Regions from separate parts of the Homo sapiens genome. Here region 1 is linked to region 2. Evidence: fine-mapped expression QTL. A gene starts in region 2. The other region holds a variant in brackets. All regions are shown on one strand. Distances are between the middles of the regions. Region 1 overlaps MOV10L1 (Mov10 like RNA helicase 1). Region 2 holds the start of TRABD-AS1 (TRABD antisense RNA 1).

What was found. PIP is the estimated chance that this variant, and not a neighbour inherited with it, causes the effect.
Region 1: its variant is the best candidate, but not a certain one, in a credible set for the expression of TRABD-AS1 in whole blood (TOPMed, PIP 0.64).

Annotation. Positions count from the first base shown.
Region 1 is chr22:50,130,089-50,135,453 of GRCh38, forward strand. MOV10L1 (Mov10 like RNA helicase 1) reads left to right here. Exons shown (of 27, transcript NM_018995.3): 14 at 3,919-3,977; 15 at 4,442-4,542. Among named protein-coding and RNA genes, the nearest start is that of PANX2, 38 kb to the right of the region's middle. The variant G/C (reference allele first, on the strand shown) is at 2,238.
Region 2 is chr22:50,197,420-50,202,784 of GRCh38, forward strand. It overlaps TRABD-AS1 (TRABD antisense RNA 1), which reads right to left and starts at 3,364. Exons shown (of 2, transcript NR_186698.1): 1 at 2,657-3,364; 2 at 1,669-1,909. TRABD (TraB domain containing) reads left to right here. Exons shown (of 10, transcript NM_001320485.2): 7 at 30-169; 8 at 404-576; 9 at 656-767; 10 at 926-2,176. The coding sequence ends at 1,100. SELENOO (selenoprotein O) reads left to right here and starts at 3,592. Exons shown (of 9, transcript NM_031454.2): 1 at 3,592-4,171. The coding sequence starts at 3,618. RefSeq lists silencers at 2,912-3,851, 3,982-4,061 and an enhancer at 4,422-4,661.

The DNA.
Region 1 (5,365 bases), 67 kb before region 2:
AACATGGGGAAACACTGTCTCTACTAAAAATACAAAACTTAGTGGGCATGATGGCACATGCCTGCAGTCCCAGCTACTTGGGAGGCTGAGGCAGGAGAATTGCTTGAACCCAGGAGGCGGAGGTTGCGGTGAGCTGAGATCATACTACTGCACTCCAGCCTGAGACAGAGCGAGACTCTGTCTCAAAAAATAAATAAATAAATAAATTTTATATATATATGTCTTTTTATTAACAGAAGGTGCTAGTTTTAATATAGTCAAATTTATCAAATTTTTTTTAATATTAGTGCTTTTTATGTCTGTCTGAGAAATCGGCAGTATTTGGGCTACAGCCAGATTGGAATGTATTGAGAATGAATGAATGGACTACGGGGGAATGGAGAAATGTCGTTGATTCCTTTTTAAGGCATTTGCCGATGAAAGCAGGGAGGGCAGGATGGAGAGAGAGCGAGAGAAATTGGTGACCAAAGAGATACAGGAGGACCAGGAGGGGGGTACTTTTTGTTTGCTGTGCAAGATGAGAGACCCCAGCATGTGAGTGCCATGAGAAGACCCAGGAATGGGAAGGAAGGGGCAGCTGTGTTGGATGATGACGTGTGAGGGTTGGCTGGGACCACAGGGAGCAGCAGCGCTGGTAGAAGGCACACAGCCTCCATCATGGCAGCTAGAGAGACTGCAGCCGACGTCCAGGCCTGGACTCCTTGACCTGCTTTGACTCTGGAACAGAGCTGATTCTTGTAGTGTGAAGGGATATCTCGTTGTGGATTTAATTTGTATTTTTCTAATGACTAATGATGCTGAACATCTTTTCTTTTTTCTTTTTTTTGAGACGGAGTCTCGTTCTGTTACCCAGGCTGGAGTGCAGTGGCACGATCTCGGCTCACTGCAAGCTCTGCCTTCCAGGTTCACACCATTCTCCTGCCTCAGTCTCCCGAGTAGCTGGGACTACAGGTGCCCACCACCACGCCCGGCTAATTTTTTTTTTTTTTTTTTTGTATTTTTAGTGAGACGGGGTTTCACTGTGTTAGCCAGAATGGTCTCAATCTCCTGACCTTGTGATCTGCCCACCTTGGCCTCCCAAAGTGCTGGGATTACAGGTGTGGGCCACCACACCCGGCCACTGAACATCTTTTTATGTGCTTTTTTGCCATTTGTACAAAATACTTGTTGAAGTCCTTCCTCAAGTCTTTGGGCCCATTTTAAAAAATTGTTTTCTCATGATTGAGTTTGCAGAGATGTTTGTATAGTTTCAGTACAGTGCTTTATCAGATACGTGTCTGTGCAAATATTTCCTCAGACTACAGCTTGTATTTTCATTGTTTTTATAGTGCCTTTTGAAATGCAGAAATTATTAATTTTGGTGAAGTCCAGTTTATGAATGTTTTCTTTCACAGATCTTTTAATGATGCATCTCAGAAATCTGTAACTAATTTGGATCTCAACGATTTTATCCTGTTTAGAAACTTGGCAGCTTTATCCTGTACATTTAGGATTATGATCTATCTCATTAAGCTTTGCAAATTGTTTGTGGGGTATGAATGGAAATTGGAGGGTGGAATGAACATCCAGTTGTCCAAGCATTATTTGATGAAAAAACTGCCCTTTCTCCAATGAATTACTATTGTACCTTTGTGAAAAAAAAAAAAAGAAAATCAGTTGACCAAATATTTGTTGATCTGTTTCTGAAGACTCTCTGTTGTGTTCCATTGTACACTTGTCTGTCTTGACACCAACATTACAGGGTCTTATTGTCTGTCTTAGTACACTCAGGCTGCATTAGCATAGCACCATAGATGGGGTGGCTTATAAACAACAGAAATGTATTTCTCATGCTCTGGAGGTCAGGAAGCCCAAGGTCAAGGCACCAGCAGGTTCAGTGTCCTGGTGAGACTGCTTCCTGGTTCGTAGGCGGCTGTCTTTTCCCTGTGTCCTCACGCAGCAGAAGGGATGGGAGAGCTCTCTGTGCTCCCTTGTGTAAGGGCACTAATTCCATTCATGAGGCCCCACCCTCATGACCTAATCACTTGCCAAAGGCCTCAACTCCTCATACCCAGTAACATCACATTGGGGATGAAGTTTCACCATACGAAGCTGGGGGGAACACAAACCTAGTGTATGATATGTGCCTTTATGATAAGTCTCAAAATCAGGTAGTATCAAGCCTCCAACTTTGTTCCTTTTCAAGGTTGTCTGGCTGTTCCAGGTCTTTCTTCTTACATGGATTTTAGGTCATGTCA[G/C]TCTCTACAGAAAGCCTGTTGGGATTTTGATTGGGATTACATTGAACCTATGGGTCGGTTTAAGGGAGAATTGGAGAATTGAAATCTTAATAATAATAAGTCCTCCAGCCCTTGAAAAGGGTATGTCTCTCCATTTATTTGCATCTGTTTTCATTTCTTTTAGCAATATTTTATACTTTTCAGTGTATAGGTCTTATAGATCTTTTGTCAGTTATACCTATTTAAAATTTTTAAATGGCTGTTATAAACAGTAAATTTAACTTAAATTTCTAATTGCTTGTTTCTAGTATTTATAAAAAGCAATTGATTTTTGTATGTTTACCTTGTATCCTGCAAGTCTCCTAAACTGAATAGCTCCAGTAGCTTCTCCTAGAGTCTGTAGAATTTTCTACATATATAATCATTGATTCAAAGAATGACAGTTTTAGGTTGGGTGTGGTGGTTCACACCTGTAATCCCAGCACTGTGGGAGGCCAAGGCAGGCGGATCACCTGAGGTCAGGAGTTTGAGACCAGTCTAGCCCACATGGGGAAACCCCATCTCTACTAAAAATACAAATAATCAGCCGGGCGTGGTAGTGGTCACCTGTAATCCCAGCTACTTGGGAGGCTGAGGCAGGAGAATTGCTTGAACCCAGGAGGCGGAGGTTGCAGTGAGCCGAGATCACGCTACTCATTCCAGCCTGGGCGACAGAGCAAGCCTCCGTCTGAAAAAAAAAAAACCAAAGACAGTTTTACTTCTTCTTCTCTTATTTGGATGCTGTGTATTTGTTTTCCTTGCCTTCCTGCGCTGGTTGGAACTTGTGTGCCAGTGTGGAATAGAAGTGGTGGCAAGTGCTGCACTGGCTTTGTCCCTGGTCTTAGGGGCAGGGCTGTCAGTCCTGAGCGAGTTAGTACAGCGTGGGTGGTAGGTTCCGTAGTGGCCCTCTATCAGGTTGAGGAGATAGATTCTTATTTTAGTGAGTTTTTAATCAAGAATGGATATGGGGCCAAGTGTGGTGGCTTACACCTGTAATCCCAGCACTTTGAGAGGCTGAGGTGGGAGGATCACATGGGCCCAGGAATTTGAGGCTTCAGTGAGCTCTGACTGTGCCACTGCACTCCAGCCTAGGCAACAGAGCAGAGTCTCTAAAAAAAAAAAAAAAAAGAAAGAAAGAATGGGTGTGGGATTTTGTCCCATGCTTTTTTTTTTGGCTTCTTTGGTATTCTCTAGTGGTTTTTACAAAAATTTTTTTAGACAGAGTCTCACTCTGTCACCCAGGCTGGAGTGCAGTGGTGCCATCTCAGCTTACTGCAACCTCTGCCTCCCAGGTTCAAGTGATTCTCATGCCTCAGCCTCCTGAGTAGCTGGGATTACAGGCGTGCACCACCACTATGCCTGGCTAATTTTTGTATTTTTAGTAGAGGCAGGGTTTCATCATGTTGGCCAGGCTGGTCTCGAACTCCTGACCTCAGGTGATCCACCCACCTCGGCCTCCCAAAGTGCTGGGATTACACACGTGAGCCACCGCGCCCGTCCTCTCTAGTGTTTTTCTGTTCTCTATTTCATTGATTGTTGGATTGTTGCTGTGATTTTTTTATATTGACTTAAAGATTGTATCATAAAATTTTCATTACCTTATGCCAGCCTTAATATTTCTGAATGTAAGGTTAGTTATTTTATGTGGTTTTCTTTCCTGCAGGACCACAAGCAGACGGTGTCACTTTGCACTTGAACACGTCATCCACTTAGGTGTAAAAGGTATTACTTTTATAGAATGATAGTGTTACATCTTCACAGAGTATTTTTATAGGCTTCATGTAAAATTTTGTGTAAAATAGTCTCTTCAGTCATAATATTAGAAGTAAAACTTTTGTTATATTCATGTTTTTAATTTTCTATCAAGTTTTAGTGTTTTCTTACTATTTCAACTTAGTGAATAACTAATAATAGCATGCTTAAATAACCGAAAATAAATTTATCTTGCTCGCTTTTCCCTTCATAAATGTAATTTATGAATTTTTACAGATGGGCAAATAAAGGGCTTTGTTGTGAAGAATATGCAGTACTAATAATGCTATAATTTAGAAACAGTATAACAGGCAGGTTAAGAAAGGAAGGGAATAGAATATTAATTGCTTTAGGGTCAGCCATAAACAACCTCTATTAATATTTTTTTAGCTTTTTAGTTATACCCGTGCTCTTACCATTTTTTGTTTTAAAAGTGTTGTTTCCAGAAGAAATTATTTTACAGTCTCCACAAGTGACGGGAAATTGGAACCATGCACAAGACACCAAAAGCAGTGGACAGTCCACCAGCAAAAAGGTAGTGCTCAGCAATGTGGCTTTCTCTACACAGGGGATGGCTCAGCGACGTGGCTGTCTTTACATAGGGGGTGGCTCAGCGGCGTGACTGTCTCTACACAGGGGATGGCTCAGCGATGTAACTGTCTACACAGGGGGTGGGCGTTTCCTTCTCGGAGTATTAGCGCTTAGTTGACTGGAGTATTAGAGCAGTGTGGTTCACAAATAACTCAAAATTGCAGTTAAAATAAAGTGAACTAAAATATTCAAAAATAGATTTAGTGTAAAGTTTATATGCAAGGGCTAAGATGCAGGGCTAAGATGGCTACAATATATTAAATAGGGGAAGCAAAGTACAGATGTTTATATGACCTTAGAGTTGGGTTTTTTCTTTTTCTTTTTTCTTTTCTTTCTTTTTTTTTTGAGACAGAGTCTCGCTCTGTCACCCAGGCTGGAGTGCAGTGGTGCAATCTTGGCTCACTGCAACCTCTGCCTCCCAGATTCAAGTGATTCTCCTGTCTCAGTCTCCAGAGTAGCTAGGACTACAGGCATGTGCCATCACACCCAGCTAATTTTTGTATTTTTAGTAGAAACAGGGTTTCACCATATTGGTCAGGCTGGTCTCGATCTCCTGATCTTGTGATCCACCCTCCTCGGCCTCCCAAAGTGCTGGAATTACAGGCGTGAGCCACCACACCCGGCCTTAGAGTTTTATTTTTAAATTATATGGTTTATGTGTACACTTAGGTACATTTATGTGATTGTGTATGCATGGAAAATGTCTGGAAGGATACACACCCCGCAAATTGTTAACATTTGCAAACTTTGTGAATGTTGCAAAGATA
Region 2 (5,365 bases):
TGCTCCCCAACACCCAGCCTCTGCTCCAGGCCAGCAAGGTGCCTTTCTGCAAGTTCCACCTGGGTGACCGACCCATCCCCGTCACCTTCAAGAGGGCCATCGCAGCGCTCTCCTTCTGGCAGAAGGTCAGGCTGGCTTGGGGCCTGTGCTTCCTGTCAGACCCCATCAGGTAGGGCTGCCCCCGGGACCCTGGCCGGCCTGCAGGGTGGTCTGTGGGAGGCTCCAGGCCCTCCTGTGCAGGTCCAAGCGCAGCCAATCCTCACTCAAGGCCTTCCCTGCCCTTTCCTTCCGCCACAAATCCCAAACAAACGTGCTGTGGTCCCTGCCCGGTGTCCACAGTGCCAGCCCCACCCCCCCAGCCCGTTGCCCATCCCTGCGGGGCTGCAGCCATCCCTCTCCACAGCAAGGATGACGTGGAACGCTGCAAGCAGAAGGACCTACTGGAGCAGATGATGGCCGAGATGATTGGCGAGTTCCCAGACCTGCACCGCACCATCGTCTCGGAGCGCGACGTCTACCTAACCTACATGCTGCGCCAGGCCGCGCGGCGCCTCGAGCTGCCTCGGGCCTCTGACGGTGACGGCCGCCCGCAGGCGTGGGACCCCCTGTGAGGCTGAGGCCCGAGCAGGTACTGACCCCTTGTCCTTCCCCACAGCCGAGCCCAGGAAGTGCGTCCCCTCCGTGGTCGTGGGCGTCGTGGGCATGGGCCACGTGCCTGGCATCGAGAAGAACTGGAGCACCGACCTCAACATCCAGGAGATCATGACGTGAGTGCCCGCCCCTCCCTGCAAGCCCCACCCCACAAGCCCCCAGGTGGAGGCTGAGCGCCCTGGAGGCCAACCACATGCGGCAGTGACCCAGGCATGGGGGCTGGGGTATGGGGAGCCCACCCCCAGCCAGGCCCAGCGCCCCCTCCCTCCCACAGCGTGCCCCCGCCGTCCGTCTCCGGCAGAGTGTCTCGGTTGGCCGTGAAGGCCGCCTTCTTCGGCCTGCTGGGCTACAGCCTGTACTGGATGGGCCGCCGCACCGCGAGCCTGGTCCTGTCGCTGCCCGCCGCGCAGTACTGCCTGCAGAGGGTGACCGAGGCCCGGCACAAGTAGGAGACTGCTCCCCGCCCGCTCGGGCCCCTGAGGAGCCAGTGCCCCCGCGGCACTTCTGGGTGCCAGGTGCATCCTAGCCCGCCCGAGGCCCCTGCCACCCCCCATGGGGGTCTGGGCCCGGCCTCGCCTGCCCTCCTGGGCCAGTCACCCCTCCCCCAGCCCACCCAAATAAAGGATTATTTAACTGTCTGAGCTCAGGCCTCCCGGCAGCCCCTCCCCTCCCACACTGCAGGGGCCGTTCCCCAGCTTCTGGACAAGACACCCAGCTCCGAGGGGGCAGGGGCTTATAGGAGGGGCCGAGGCGTGCGCTGCCCTCTCAGCCCTGGTGGCAGGCGGGGGACAATGGCCACTGTCCCTACCTCACTGTGCCTTCCTGTGCTCCGGCCACAGGAGCGTCGGCCCAGGGGCGGCTCCTGGGGGCTCCAGGGCAGGCGAGACTGGGAAAGGCCCAGCCCTGGAGCTCCAGCCGACCCCACCGTGCCCCTGGCATCCTGGCCCTGGCCGCCACCTCCCTGGCACCGTCTGCCTGCAGGGATTCTGTGTTTTTGGCTTTTTTAATGTCTTAAAATCTTTTACTCAGGTAATTTTAATTTCAGAGAGAAAAACTGAAGTAAATGTCAAAAAACACCAGCCTTAAATCCAAAGGGAGAGAATTCGTGTTCTTGGGTCTGTCCCGAGTGGGCTCGCGTGCAGCCAAACATCAGCTCTGGGTCCAGGCGTGGCCTCAGCTGGGAGCCTGTGTCCTGAGCCCCCGGAGCGAAGGGGTGCCTGGGGCATCTTGGCCCTCTCTGGGCAGACAATGTGTGCACCTATGTGGAAGGCCAAGGACATGGGCTGTGGCCAGGCCTGTCCCGCTCAGGCCCCCTGCCCGGCGGCCGTCTGTGTGCGGGGCCTCCCTCCTGGCTGTCCAGGACACAGCCCGTGCAGCCCCAGCCTGGACCCAGGCCATCTCTGGTTGTGTCTGTGCCGACTCGGTGTTGAATCAAATCAGGTGTGCGTCAGGAGCCGGCTGTGTCCTTCCTGCCACACTCGGGGATTCATTCCTTAGAAACTGAAATAAATTCTAATTTTGGAAACTCCTGTTTTGTGACGTGTGAACATGGGGTTCAGGTAATGAAGGATCCCTGCCTCTTCCCCCGTGCTCCAGTGCAGCGGGTACTCGTGGCCCTGCCGGGGCCCTGGGGGAAGGAACCTGCCTGGTTTCCAGCAGAAGAGACAGAGTCGGGTCCCTCCATGCTGACCTGTGGGACCCTTCTCACCCACCAGGTGGGACGCAGGTGGCCTGCTGACACTCAAGACCCTCCATACCCAGTCCCACCAGATTCCAGAGTGTGGACCAGACTGAGCCAGACTGGGGCCCCAGGGGGTCGAGGAGACAGATCAGGAGGGCCCAGGGCCTGGGGAATGGGGAGGGGTAACACCTGCCAAGGAGGATGCTGGGAACGGGCGCCCAGAGCGGCCGGGGGGAGGGGGCTGCTGAAGAGGGAACGGTTGCTGTGGGCTGCAGAGGAGGGTTGGGCACGGGGACCTCACCACATTATCCCTCATCCAGTTACCTGCCCAACGCACGCGGAGGGTCCTGAGGGCTTCACCCGCAGCCCCAAAGGGGCAGAGCTGGGGTCACGCAGAGTCTCGGAAGCCCACGCTGTGGCCCCAGGAGAAGCTTCTGGATGTAGCTCCTGTATGTGAAGGGTGGGCTCGCGCCGCTGCCGGAATAAAGGGAAACCACAGGCAGGAGGGAGGCGCGTCCAGGATCCGCGGCCACCGGCCTCTCAGACAGTCCTCTGGGGCCGGGGCCGGAGGAGATGGAAAGCGGGGGCACCACAGACTCATCTGAACCCCCGCGTTCATTCGGACACACAGACCCCAAATTCCTCCCCCAGGGGTCGGGTCCCTCAAGCCAGCCGAAGACCCCGGTGCCCGCCCAGCCCTCCGGGAGGGTCTGCGCCTGCGGCCTCGCGGGGCCTCTCCGAGCCCGGGCGCTGTTCCATGGGCGGGGCACAGATCCAAGGCCCCTTCCCTCCTAGACGGCAGGCGAGGGGCCCGAGAGGCCGGAGGCCAGGGGACAAGGTCCCCGAGAGGCGGCGCGAGGCTCCGGCGGCCCAGAACCGCGGCGGGGTCCGGGTGGGGTCCCGGCCGCCCGTGGGGCGCGGGGCTAAGCCCCGGCCCGACCCGAACGGACGCGGGCCTCGGTCCCCGCTGCCGGCGCCGGTGCAGCCGAGGAAATCCGGGGCTGCCCGAGCGGGGTCGTCGCTGGCGGTCTCGGAGGCGTTCCCATCTGTCACCCCGTTCGCATCAGCGCGCGCCCCGTGACGCCGACAGCCACCCCGGACGCCTCCGACCCTCCGGCCGGGAGATGCGGATAGACGGACGAGGCAGCCAATTAGAGCCCGGCCAGACACCGCGACCCCTCCCCCCACCCGCCCCACTCTCGCCCACTGGCGATTGGGTTGCGGGACGCGCGGGGCGGGGCTTCCGGGCGGGGCAGGCTGGCTTCCGGCGGGAGCGGGGCCGCGGATGGCCGTATACAGGGCAGCGCTCGGGGCTTCGCTCGCGGCTGCCCGACTCTTGCCCCTCGGTCGCTGTTCCCCGTCGCCGGCGCCCCGCTCTACGTTGTCGGGCGCCGCCATGGAGCCCGCGCCTCGCTGGCTGGCGGGGCTGCGCTTCGACAACCGCGCCCTGCGCGCCCTGCCCGTGGAGGCGCCGCCGCCCGGTCCCGAGGGCGCCCCGTCCGCGCCGCGGCCCGTGCCCGGGGCCTGCTTCACCCGCGTGCAGCCCACCCCGCTGCGGCAGCCGCGCCTCGTGGCGCTGTCAGAGCCCGCGCTGGCGTTGCTGGGCCTGGGCGCGCCGCCCGCGCGCGAGGCCGAGGCCGAGGCCGCGCTGTTCTTCAGCGGCAACGCGCTCCTGCCGGGCGCCGAGCCCGCCGCGCACTGCTACTGCGGCCACCAATTCGGCCAGTTCGCCGGGCAGCTGGGCGACGGCGCCGCCATGTACCTGGGCGAGGTGTGCACGGCGACCGGCGAGCGCTGGGAGCTGCAGCTCAAGGGCGCCGGGCCCACGCCCTTCTCCAGGTGGGCCGGGGCGGGCGAGGGGCGCGGGTGGGTCCTCCCCGCCGGGGCGCCCCTTCCCTCCGCCCGGCGCGGTGTTGGGGGCGTCCGGCGGCTACTGCCAAGTGGGGCCTCCCCTGCACCCGCGGGAGCGCGGTGCTGGCAGCCGCCCGCGCCCTGTGCTTATCAACCCGCCGAGGACCTTGGAGTCAGCTCCACCAGGGACGCCGCTCATGTTTACCGACGTTCGCTGGGGCTCCAAACCCAGGGGCGGGAGCCGGGATGAGAGGTTAGGCTAACCCTAACCCTAACCCCGCAGGTCCCCAGCCTTCCTCCGATCGCTCGTGGGGCGGGCCGCTTCGTCCAGCAGCCTCGCTCTGCGACTGACTTCACGGAGGCCTGGCCCTGACTTCCCTGCGGGCAGCCCTTTTTAACCCCGAAGTGAGGTGGGCATCGTTTAGATTTCTGTGGGGGGGCACACAGGTGGTCTAATAAGGCAGGATCTGGGTCCAGATGCCGCCAGGCCCACCGGGGAGCCGTGCACGCGCCACCTGCCTCCTGTGTATAGACAGCGCTTGGGTCTGTTCTGCTCTTTTCTACTAAACAATGTACTTACTCCATATTCTTTACTGCTTTTGTGAATGACTAGGAAAGTGTACATTTTATGTTCAGAGAAATGCTAAACCCGCATCTCATCCGGCCCCTCCCTGTGCTCTCATCACCTCCCCCTCCAGCACCTGAAATGCCCCTCGGTCCCTCAGCATCCCTTCCCCGGGGCTCCATCTCCCAAGCAAGCTCCTCAGACTGAGGGTCTTCCTCACTCCCCCGTCTCCAAATCCGTTCTGTTCTGTGTCTGAGGGCAACCTGGCTCTGGCTCTCCCTCCCCACCCCCAGCGACCTGCTTAGAGTTGACAGCACCGGCCGCCCACTGGAGCGTTTCTGACCCTTGGAACGTGGTGGAAATGCTGCTCAGCCTGGGGCCTGCTTGTCCTGTGAGCATTTTTTTTTTTTAATTTTTGTTTTTCTTTTTGGCGATCATCTTAAACTTTATGTTTTCATTTTTGGTGATATTTTAAAGTTAAAAAGACAATTTTTTTTATGAGAGTAATCTGTCGCTGGAAGACACTTTTTATGTTTGAAGACTTGAGTATTAACTCACTGCTTTCAGACCTGAGAGCTGCTAGAATATATTTTCTCCTAAAAATTAAGGAGTCCTTT